Regions from separate parts of the Homo sapiens genome. Here regions 1 and 3 are each linked to region 2. The links come from fine-mapping of genetic effects on gene expression. A gene starts in region 2. Each other region holds a variant in brackets. All regions are shown on one strand. Distances are from middle to middle. Region 1 overlaps ARID3A (AT-rich interaction domain 3A). Region 2 holds the start of ARID3A (AT-rich interaction domain 3A). Region 3 overlaps ARID3A (AT-rich interaction domain 3A).

Region 1 (2,736 bases), 45 kb before region 2:
CTCCGCGGCTCTAGCCCCAGGGATCCGATGTGCTGGGCTCACAGCTGCCCAACGCACCCCCAGAAATGGACAAAGGGACCCAAATTGGTCATGGGAAAAATAAAAAGGTGAGTTTTTTTTTTTTTTTTTTTTTTTTTTTTTTGCTTTTTTTTCTTGCTTTTTCAAGACCAGTTTCCCTGAAGGAACACAAATATATAGCTATATAGATATATAGATATCCTTTTCCTAAGGTTTGATCCCCCCAAGAATAAAATAGAATATTTACACAACAAAACCCCCGAAACCTCTTAAAAACCCTACAGAGAAAAAAAAATTTCCCAAAGCAACAAGAAAAAAACAAAAATTCAGTGATCTTGGTTCAGGGGTTTCACTGGACACGAGAAGCTGGGAGTGGTGAGTGTGTGGTGAATAGAAAATAAAAGAGAACTAAAGCAGACAAAAATGAAAACACACAGTGCAGGGATGTATGAGGTAAACAGGATCGGCCCACACTGCTGTGGGGCCAAACCAGACACCAGAGCCTTCGGTCCATCAGGGCTGCCTGAACGCCCTGGGAAACGTCTGCCTCTTTCTGTTTTTCTGATGGATTTCTTTGCTGTTCTCACAATTCATCTCTCTGAATGTCCAAAACCTGAGAAATTCAAGTGTTCCTTGGTTTTCCCCTGTTTTATTAAATTCTCTTTATATATATACGTGTATATATATATATATATATATATATCTTTTTTCTTTTCTTTTTGGCGTCAGCTGTGGCTCCTTTCTGGATATCTTCCCTCCCCACCCGTATCTTCCGCCATCCTGGCCCCTGTGTGGCCCACCTGGACCCCCTGCCCAGGCCGGCGGGCTCCAGGGTGGGTGGCGGGTGGGGAGTGATGCGGTTAAGGCAACGAGTTATTTGAGGTAGATGTGGAGGGTGTGGACAGCCCCGCTGGCCCAGCCTGGCCGCCGCTGGTTCCGGTGTTTCCTCCCCGGCCGCCTGCGTTGCTGCTGCTGC[C/T]GCCGCCGCCGCCGCCTCCTTTGTTGGGAGCAGAGGTTGGCGTGGGGGCCGGCGGCTGAGCAAACAGAACTCCTAAGGCAAGAACAGAAGACATATGCCATGCAGAGTTTAAGAAGATGCGAGGCGGGCCACAAGGGAGACCCAATGGGGTGCTCCGGGGAATAAACTTCTCTCTCACTCTGTCCCCCAGGCTAGAGTGCAGTGGTGGCATCAGAGCTCACTGCAGCCTCAACCTCATGGGCTCAAGTGATCCTCCCAGCTCAGCCTCCCGAGTAGCTGAGACCACAGGGGCGTGCCACCATGTCTGGCTAATTTTTTATTTTTTTGTTTTTTTTTGAGATGGTGTCTCGCTCTGTCGCGCAGGCTGGAGTGCAGTGGTGCGATATTGGCTCACTGCAACCTCCACCTCCTGGGTTCAAGCAGTTTTCCTGTCTCACCCTCCTGAGTAGCTGGGACTAACTACAGGCGCCTGCCACTACACCAGCCAATTTTTTATTTTTAGTACAGACGGAGTTTCACCATGTTGGCCAGGCTGGTCTCCAACTCCTGACCTCAGGTGATCCACCCACCTTGGCCTCCCAGAGTGCTGGGATGACAGGCATGAGCCACTGTGGCTGGCAATATTTTAGCAATTTTTTATTTTTTGTAGAGATGGGCTCTCAATATGTTGCCCAGGCTGGTCTCAAGTTCCTGGCCTAAAACAATCCTCCTGCCTCTGACTCCCAAAGTGCTGGGATTACAGACGTGAGCCCAGCTTAAACTTCCCCACTGTGTCTGCTCACTCCTTCATCACACACATGTGCATATATATGGATGCACGTGAGCACACACGTGTGTTTAATCCACACATGCACATCAGCGTGCACACAGCTCTTGCAGGGAGAACCCTGATGCCCATGGTTCGTTGATGTGGGGTTGCGAGACCCCTAGCACACAGTTGGCCTTCTCCCCTGTAAGATTCAATATGAATGTACACGTTTTACATCTGATTTCCGGAGGGCACGGACCCCTCAAAAATCCATTTGTGGACCTGTGAGGACACCACTGACCTTCAGCTCAGCCTCTGACCACAGCCGGGCGGGGGCCTGCAACAAGGCTGCTCTGTGTCGACAGCGCCACCTGGTGGCCACTATGAACCATCGGCCTGACTCCACTTTAAGAAAAACTATTCATTTACCGCCGGGTGTGGTGGCTAATGCCTGTAATCCCAGCACTTTGGGAGGCCAAGACCAGCAGATCACGAAGTCAGGAGTTCGAGACCAGCCTGACCAACATGGTGAAACCCCGTATCATCTAAAAATACAAAAATTAGCCGGGCCTGGTGGCATGCACCTGTAATCCCAGCTACTCAGGAGGCGGAGGTTGCAGGAGCTGAGATCATGCCATTGCACTCCAGCCTGGGCAACAGAGTGAGACTCTGTCTCAAAAAAAAAAAAAAAAAAAAAAAAAAAGAAAAACTATTCATTTACTTATGTTCTTTTGTAGAGATGGGGTCTTCTGTGTTGCCCAGGCTGGCCTCAAGCAAACCTCTCTCCTTAGCCTCCCAAAGTGTTGGGATTACAGGCGTGGGCCACTGCCCCTGGCACTGACTCCACTTTTTTAATTAAATTTTTTAATTCTTTTTTTTTTCTTCCTCTGAGACGAAGTCTTGCTCCATTGCACAGGCTGGAGTGCGGTGGCGCGATCTCGGCTCACTGCAACCTTCGCCTCCCGGGTTCAAGCAATTCTCCTGCCTCAGCCTC
Region 2 (2,751 bases):
GTCACCCCCCACCCACCCAACCCAAGAAAGTGCTGAGGGGGCATTTCTGACTCAGGGTCTGGTCGGGTCTGTCGCCCCTCCCCCACCTGGGACAACTTCAAGACAAGGCCCCCCCCACGGAAGAGCTCCAAGCAAAGCCCCCCCTCTTTGGGGGCACAGAAGGAAGAGGCCAAAGGAAGCCACTCCCCCCACCAGCCCGCTCCGAGCCCTGCTGGGTTTAATGACCCTTCCGGGTCGCCGGGTGGGGGAGGGGAGCAGGACAGACCTCCACGTTGGGGCCGGTGGAGGGGGCAGGTGGGGATCCCAGATTCCCCCCTAGGTCAGGGCTGGGTGCCCCCCCATCGCCGCCATAACCCTAAACTAGCTACGCCCACCCCCTTCAGACCCCTCCCCCCAAGAGCCCTTTGTCCTCGACCCCCACCCCCATTTTATGACAGCCCCAAGGGAGAGGCTGGGACGGGGCGCTGGGTGGTCGTTGGACCAGGCAGGGGTGGGGGGCGGAGGGATCCTGGGCCACACCCTCCTCCCCCCAGGCCTCCGGAGAGAGGTCACCCGCTCGGCGCGGGCCTTGCAAAACATGGTTATTTAAAGAGTTGTGCAAGGCCCCGGGCCCGCGGGTGGCGAAAGGGGCCCCTCACTCCACGAAGGGAAGAGGAGGGGGAGGGGCGGGGCAGAAAGCTGGGGAGGGGGCTAAGAAAGTCCTGGGTTGGGGGGGCCTGGAGGAAGTGAGAAAAAAACTCAAGAAGGAGAAGAAATAAGAAGACAGAAACCCTGGTCCGGATTTCAAAGGCTTCTTGGAAAGCGGCCGATTTGCATGGGGGGGGGAACCCCTCCAGCCCGAGCGCCTAAAAACGGAAGATAATTGAACCCGCCGCCCGGGGCCGGCGCCGAGCGTTGGAGTTGACAAACGCGCGCTCCCAGCGCTTCCTGCGCCCGCTTTTGTGTCTGGGGGGCCCTGAAACGGGTCAGGGGGCTCTTCCTGGGTATCCCCGCCGAGGAACCGGGCGCCCGGGCCCAACCCACCCCGGCGCCCGGGGGCCGCGGTGTCTCCCCCGGGGGCCCCTCTCTGCGCTGGGGCGGACACTTTATAAATAAACCAGCCCGGCTGGGGAGGCTCGCCGGGAACTACCCTCCCTCCTCTCTGGGCTCCCGAATAAATCCCTGATTTCGGGGAGAAAGAATAAAAATGAAATAAAATATCGGGGTGCAGCCCCCCGCGCGCGCGCAGAGACCATTTCCTTCCGCTGGGGAGGGGGGGGCGCGCACTCGCGACCCCCGATCGCCCCTGCTCGCCCCTGAGCGATTGATCCAGTGGGGAGTGAAGTCTCCAAGCGGGGTGCAGAGAAAACTCCCCGAACCCCAGCCCGCCAGGGCCGCCTTCCCAGTCCGGGACCCCCACCAACATCTCCGCCCAACTTTGGGGACCCCCTTCTTTGGCTTCCAGGACGCACTGCGCCCACCCCGGCACCGGAACCCGCGCTGGGAACGGCCAGCGCGCTCCCCAGCCTTACCGCGCAGGGCGGCTCGTAGTGGGGCGCGCGCCCCGCGCCTGGGGTCGGCCTGCCCGGGCCCGCCTGGCTTCCAGCCGCCGGTGCGCGCCGCTGGCTCCCGGCCCCCGACCCACGGGGCTGTGCCGCGCGCCGACTCACCGAGCCGCCAGCCGCGTCCGCGTCTACACCCCTCCGCCCGATTGGTAAGAGGCGCCCCGCGCGCGGCCGGCCCCCGCCCCGCCCCTCCCCCACCCCCAGACAAATCACCAGGGGACGAGTCGCTCTCGGATGCAAATACCTGGCCGGTGATTCAGCGCCGCGGCCCGGGCGCGGGAGGGCCTCGCCAGGGCTCCCCACTTTTCCCCGCACGCCCCCTCGCCCCCCTCCCGCGGTCTGACGACGCGCAACCAGCCCGGGGGCGCTGGGGAGCCGGGCAGAGTGGACGGAAATTTTCAGGTCGCGGCCCCTTTAAAGGATAATAAATAATAAACGGGAAGGGGAACAGCGCCGCGGGAGGCCCCGCCCCCGGCCTAGGGACGGTGGGCAAAGTGCGCGACGCGGCCCCAAGCGCAGAGGGTGCCGGGGGCAGGGGCTGGGGCGGGAGCGCCCCGGGGGAAGAAGAGGGGACTGACTGGGGCTCCGCCTGGGCGGGCTGGCCGGAGGCATCGGAGCCAGATCCGGGACCAAGTCTCTTCCCTTCTTACGGAGCACCTACGCTGGGCCTCGTGGACTCGGAGTTTCACCTTCGCCCCTTAGACGGAGAGACCCTGAGAGAGTGACTTCACTCTCCGGAGCCGCCGTTTCCAAGTCTGAGAAATGGGCTTGAAAGACCCGGTGCAGAGCTGGGCGGGCGGCGTCGGAGGGAGGGAACCAGGGTCCCGCCGGCCTCCCTCTGGGGAGGGACGGGCTGCAGACGGGGGCTCGGCGCGGGCGTGGGGAGGTGCGCGCTGGGACCCGGAGCCCCTTTGTGAAACCAGGACGACCCTGCCCGGCCCGGCTGTCACCAGCGTCGGGAGCTCGGCTGCCCACCACCCCCCCGTGAAGGTGGTGATGACTTACACGGTCTGAGCGGTCGCTTGCCCAACCACGTGCCCCGCGCCTCCCTCCAGGGAGGTCCCTGCACGTCTCCAGCCCTCACTCCTCTCTGTAGTTGGCAACCTTCTTGTCGCCACTGCGCAGAGCAGGAAACTGAGGCACCGAGCGGGGTGCAAGGAAGGCGGTCGGGAGGGGGACGCGTGCTCTGCAGGGAGCTGTGTGCGCG
Region 3 (2,740 bases), 49 kb before region 2:
TGAGTAGGGAGGGAGAGAGGAGGCGAGTCCCAGGAGCTGGGTTCCCCCGGGTTTACACCGTCTGCCCTGTCAGGAGCTTATCCTGGTGTCTGCTGTGGGCAGGGAGAACTGTTTTTACCCCACCTTAAATAATGAAGGCAGAATTTCCCAACTCCTGCAGTGTGGATGCTGGGCGCCAGATTGTTCTCTGCGGTGGGGCCGTCCTGGGCACTCAGGGTGCCGAGCAGCATCCCAGGACTCCACCCACTCCACACCAGGAGCGCCCCCCCAGGCGTGACAACCACAAATGCCCCCAGACATGGACCAGGGTCCCCCTGGGGGCACAGACCCTGGCTGAGGACCCCTGCTTTTTTTTTTTTTTTTTTTTTTGATGGAGTTTCCCTCTTGTCGCCGAGGCTGGAGTGCAGTGGCGCAATCTCGGCTCACTGCAACCTCCGCCTCCTGGGTTCAAGTAATTCTCCTGCCTCAGCCTCCGGAGTAGCTGGGATTACAGGCACGCGCCACCACGCCCGGATAATTTTGTATTTTTAGTAGAGATGGGGTTTCACCATGTTGGTCAGGCTGGTCTCAAACTCCCGAACTCAGGTGATTCCGCCCTCCTAGACCTCCCAAAGTGCTGGGATAACAGGCGTGAGCCACCGCACCTGGCCAGACCCCCGCTTTTGTAGCTGTCTCTGCCGCCCGGAACCAGACCTAGAGCGATGCAGGGCAGAGGGGGATAGAGCACCCCCTTCCACTCACCCCTGGCTGTGCTGGGCAGGGGTGTAGGGTGGAGCTGGAGGTTGGGGAGACGCCAAAAGAAAAAAAACACCACAGGACACTTTTCTGTTAAAAGTCAGAAGTGTTTTGTCTCGTTTTAATATCTCATCAGCTTTACAGGGTTACAATCGTCTTAAATATTTCTGAAGTTTAAATACAATCTGCATAATAATGTTACTATAAAATGTAAACTTTCAGTGTTCTTTTAAATTTCAAAATCACACTTTTTTTTTTTTTTGGTCTTTTTGTCTTTTTTTTTTTTTTTCCTTTTAATACCTGAATGTTCTGCGAAAACTGAAATTGTTACAGGCCACCCTGCCGCGGCCAGGGCGAGACAGGCTGGGCCCAGCCAGAGGTAGAGAGTAGTTTTATGTTTTTTAAAAATTTTTTTAAGTTTTTTTTTTTTTCCTCCTATTACCTGAGTTTCAGGCGTGGTTCCCACGCCGTCTGACAAACTCCAGAGAAACTGAAATTTCACACGTCATGAATGAAAGGCTGAGTTTACATTTGCCAAGGAAAAAAATGCAAAAGCACAATTGGGGAAAAAAGGGACAAGGTGGGTAAAACATGATAAGAGAAAGGAAATTCAACTGTAC[A/G]GATGCGTGACCCTTAACAACGACCCCAGCTGCCCCCCGTGCCCCGTGCCCACCCTCCCGCCTTTCTGGACAGCCACTTACGGGTCCCACGGAAGGTTCCAGAAGCCGCCTTTCTCCCAACATCTCAGAGCAGGGGGAGCCCCCGTTGGCCTTGACTGTGGGGCACCCACTCAGTACGCAGCCAGGCCCCACGGTCCCAAGTGAACTAGAACCCATCCAGGGTCCTCGTGGCTGAGGGGACTGCCCGACCCCCTCCCAGTCTGCATAAGGGGGGGTGCTGAGCTGCACCCCAGAAAGCCACACCGAATTTAAACCCCCACCGACAGGCGGTGGCAGGAGATGGGCACGGCTGGGGTTGAACGGGGCCACCTGAGGCAGGGAGGAGCCTCTGCAGACACGGCTTCCTGCCGAGTATCCAGGACCGGGCCCCATAGACCCTCTGCAACCGCCTCCCATTTCCACGGCCAGCATGGCCACTGCCTTCAGCGACTTCCTTCTCCTGGGCCGGGACCCAGCCTCGCGCCCACCCCCCACCCACCCCGCCTGTCCCTACAATCATCGGAGTTAACAGCAGGCTCAAGTCCTCTGAGTTAGAATCCAGGTCCACCCACCGCCGGGAGGCCGGATCGCCCACAGACACGACACGCAGGATTCCCGACACACACACGCAGCCCGAGGGAGACGACCCAGCCCTCGACCCTGCACGGCCCCTCCCCAGGCTCCGAGGTGGGCAGGTGCACGGGGGCCCCAGGGGTCCAGGGCCGCCAGATGCAGCAGGCAGCCAGGCCCCAGTGGCTGCTGCAGACCCTGGTGCACGGGAGGCGGGGGAGAGGCACCCCAGGGGCTCAGATTTTGGCATCAAAAGTCAGACCTGAGGTAGACAGAGATAGGCAGCAGGCGCTTCCCCCGGCGCGGGGCCCAGGCGTGGGACGGGGGTCCCGGGAGAGGAGCCCTGGAGGCCGGGGGACAGACACGGACAGAGTCCAGGTGGTTCTGCGAGTGGGGCCCGATTGTGTCTGGAGGCAAACAGACACCCCCTTCCCGGGGTGATTGTGCTGCTACGGTGCTGGCCCCAGGAAGGGACAAGGAAAACCTAGACGCCCACCACCCCCTCCTGGAAAGGGGGTGTGTGTCCACGGCCCTGAGATCCGAGAAGGAAGTGGGGGTCCCCTCCCCAAAGACACAGGAAAGTGACAGTCCCCTCCCACAGCCCGACGGGAAAGTGAACCTAGACTCAGGGGCTCAGAAGCCCCCCAGCCCCCTCCCCAGGGGTCTCCAAGGCAATGGGGAGGTGGTTGGGAGTGGGGGGAGCTGGGGAGTCCCCTTCCTCACCAAGCCCCCATGCCGGTGGCCTAACAGGGCTCCCAGGGCCCAATTAGAGACCC

Evidence for each region. PIP is the estimated chance that this variant, and not a neighbour inherited with it, causes the effect.
Region 1: its variant is fine-mapped to the expression of ARID3A in whole blood (TOPMed, PIP above 0.99).
Region 3: its variant is fine-mapped to the expression of ARID3A in blood mononuclear cells (TOPMed, PIP 0.97).

The regions. Positions count from the first base shown.
Region 1 is chr19:970,208-972,943 of GRCh38, reverse strand. ARID3A (AT-rich interaction domain 3A) reads right to left here. Exons shown (of 9, transcript NM_005224.3): 9 at 1-1,066. The coding sequence ends at 879. Among named protein-coding and RNA genes, the nearest start is that of WDR18, 13 kb to the left of the region's middle. The variant C/T (reference allele first, on the strand shown) is at 995.
Region 2 is chr19:924,958-927,708 of GRCh38, reverse strand. It overlaps ARID3A (AT-rich interaction domain 3A), which reads right to left and starts at 1,674. Exons shown (of 9, transcript NM_005224.3): 1 at 1,650-1,674. RefSeq lists silencers at 705-897, 885-1,124, 1,545-1,614, 1,705-2,634, 2,725-2,751 and an enhancer at 740-1,500.
Region 3 is chr19:974,021-976,760 of GRCh38, reverse strand. It overlaps ARID3A (AT-rich interaction domain 3A), which reads right to left. Exons shown (of 9, transcript NM_005224.3): 9 at 822-2,740. Among named protein-coding and RNA genes, the nearest start is that of WDR18, 9.0 kb to the left of the region's middle. The variant A/G (reference allele first, on the strand shown) is at 1,356.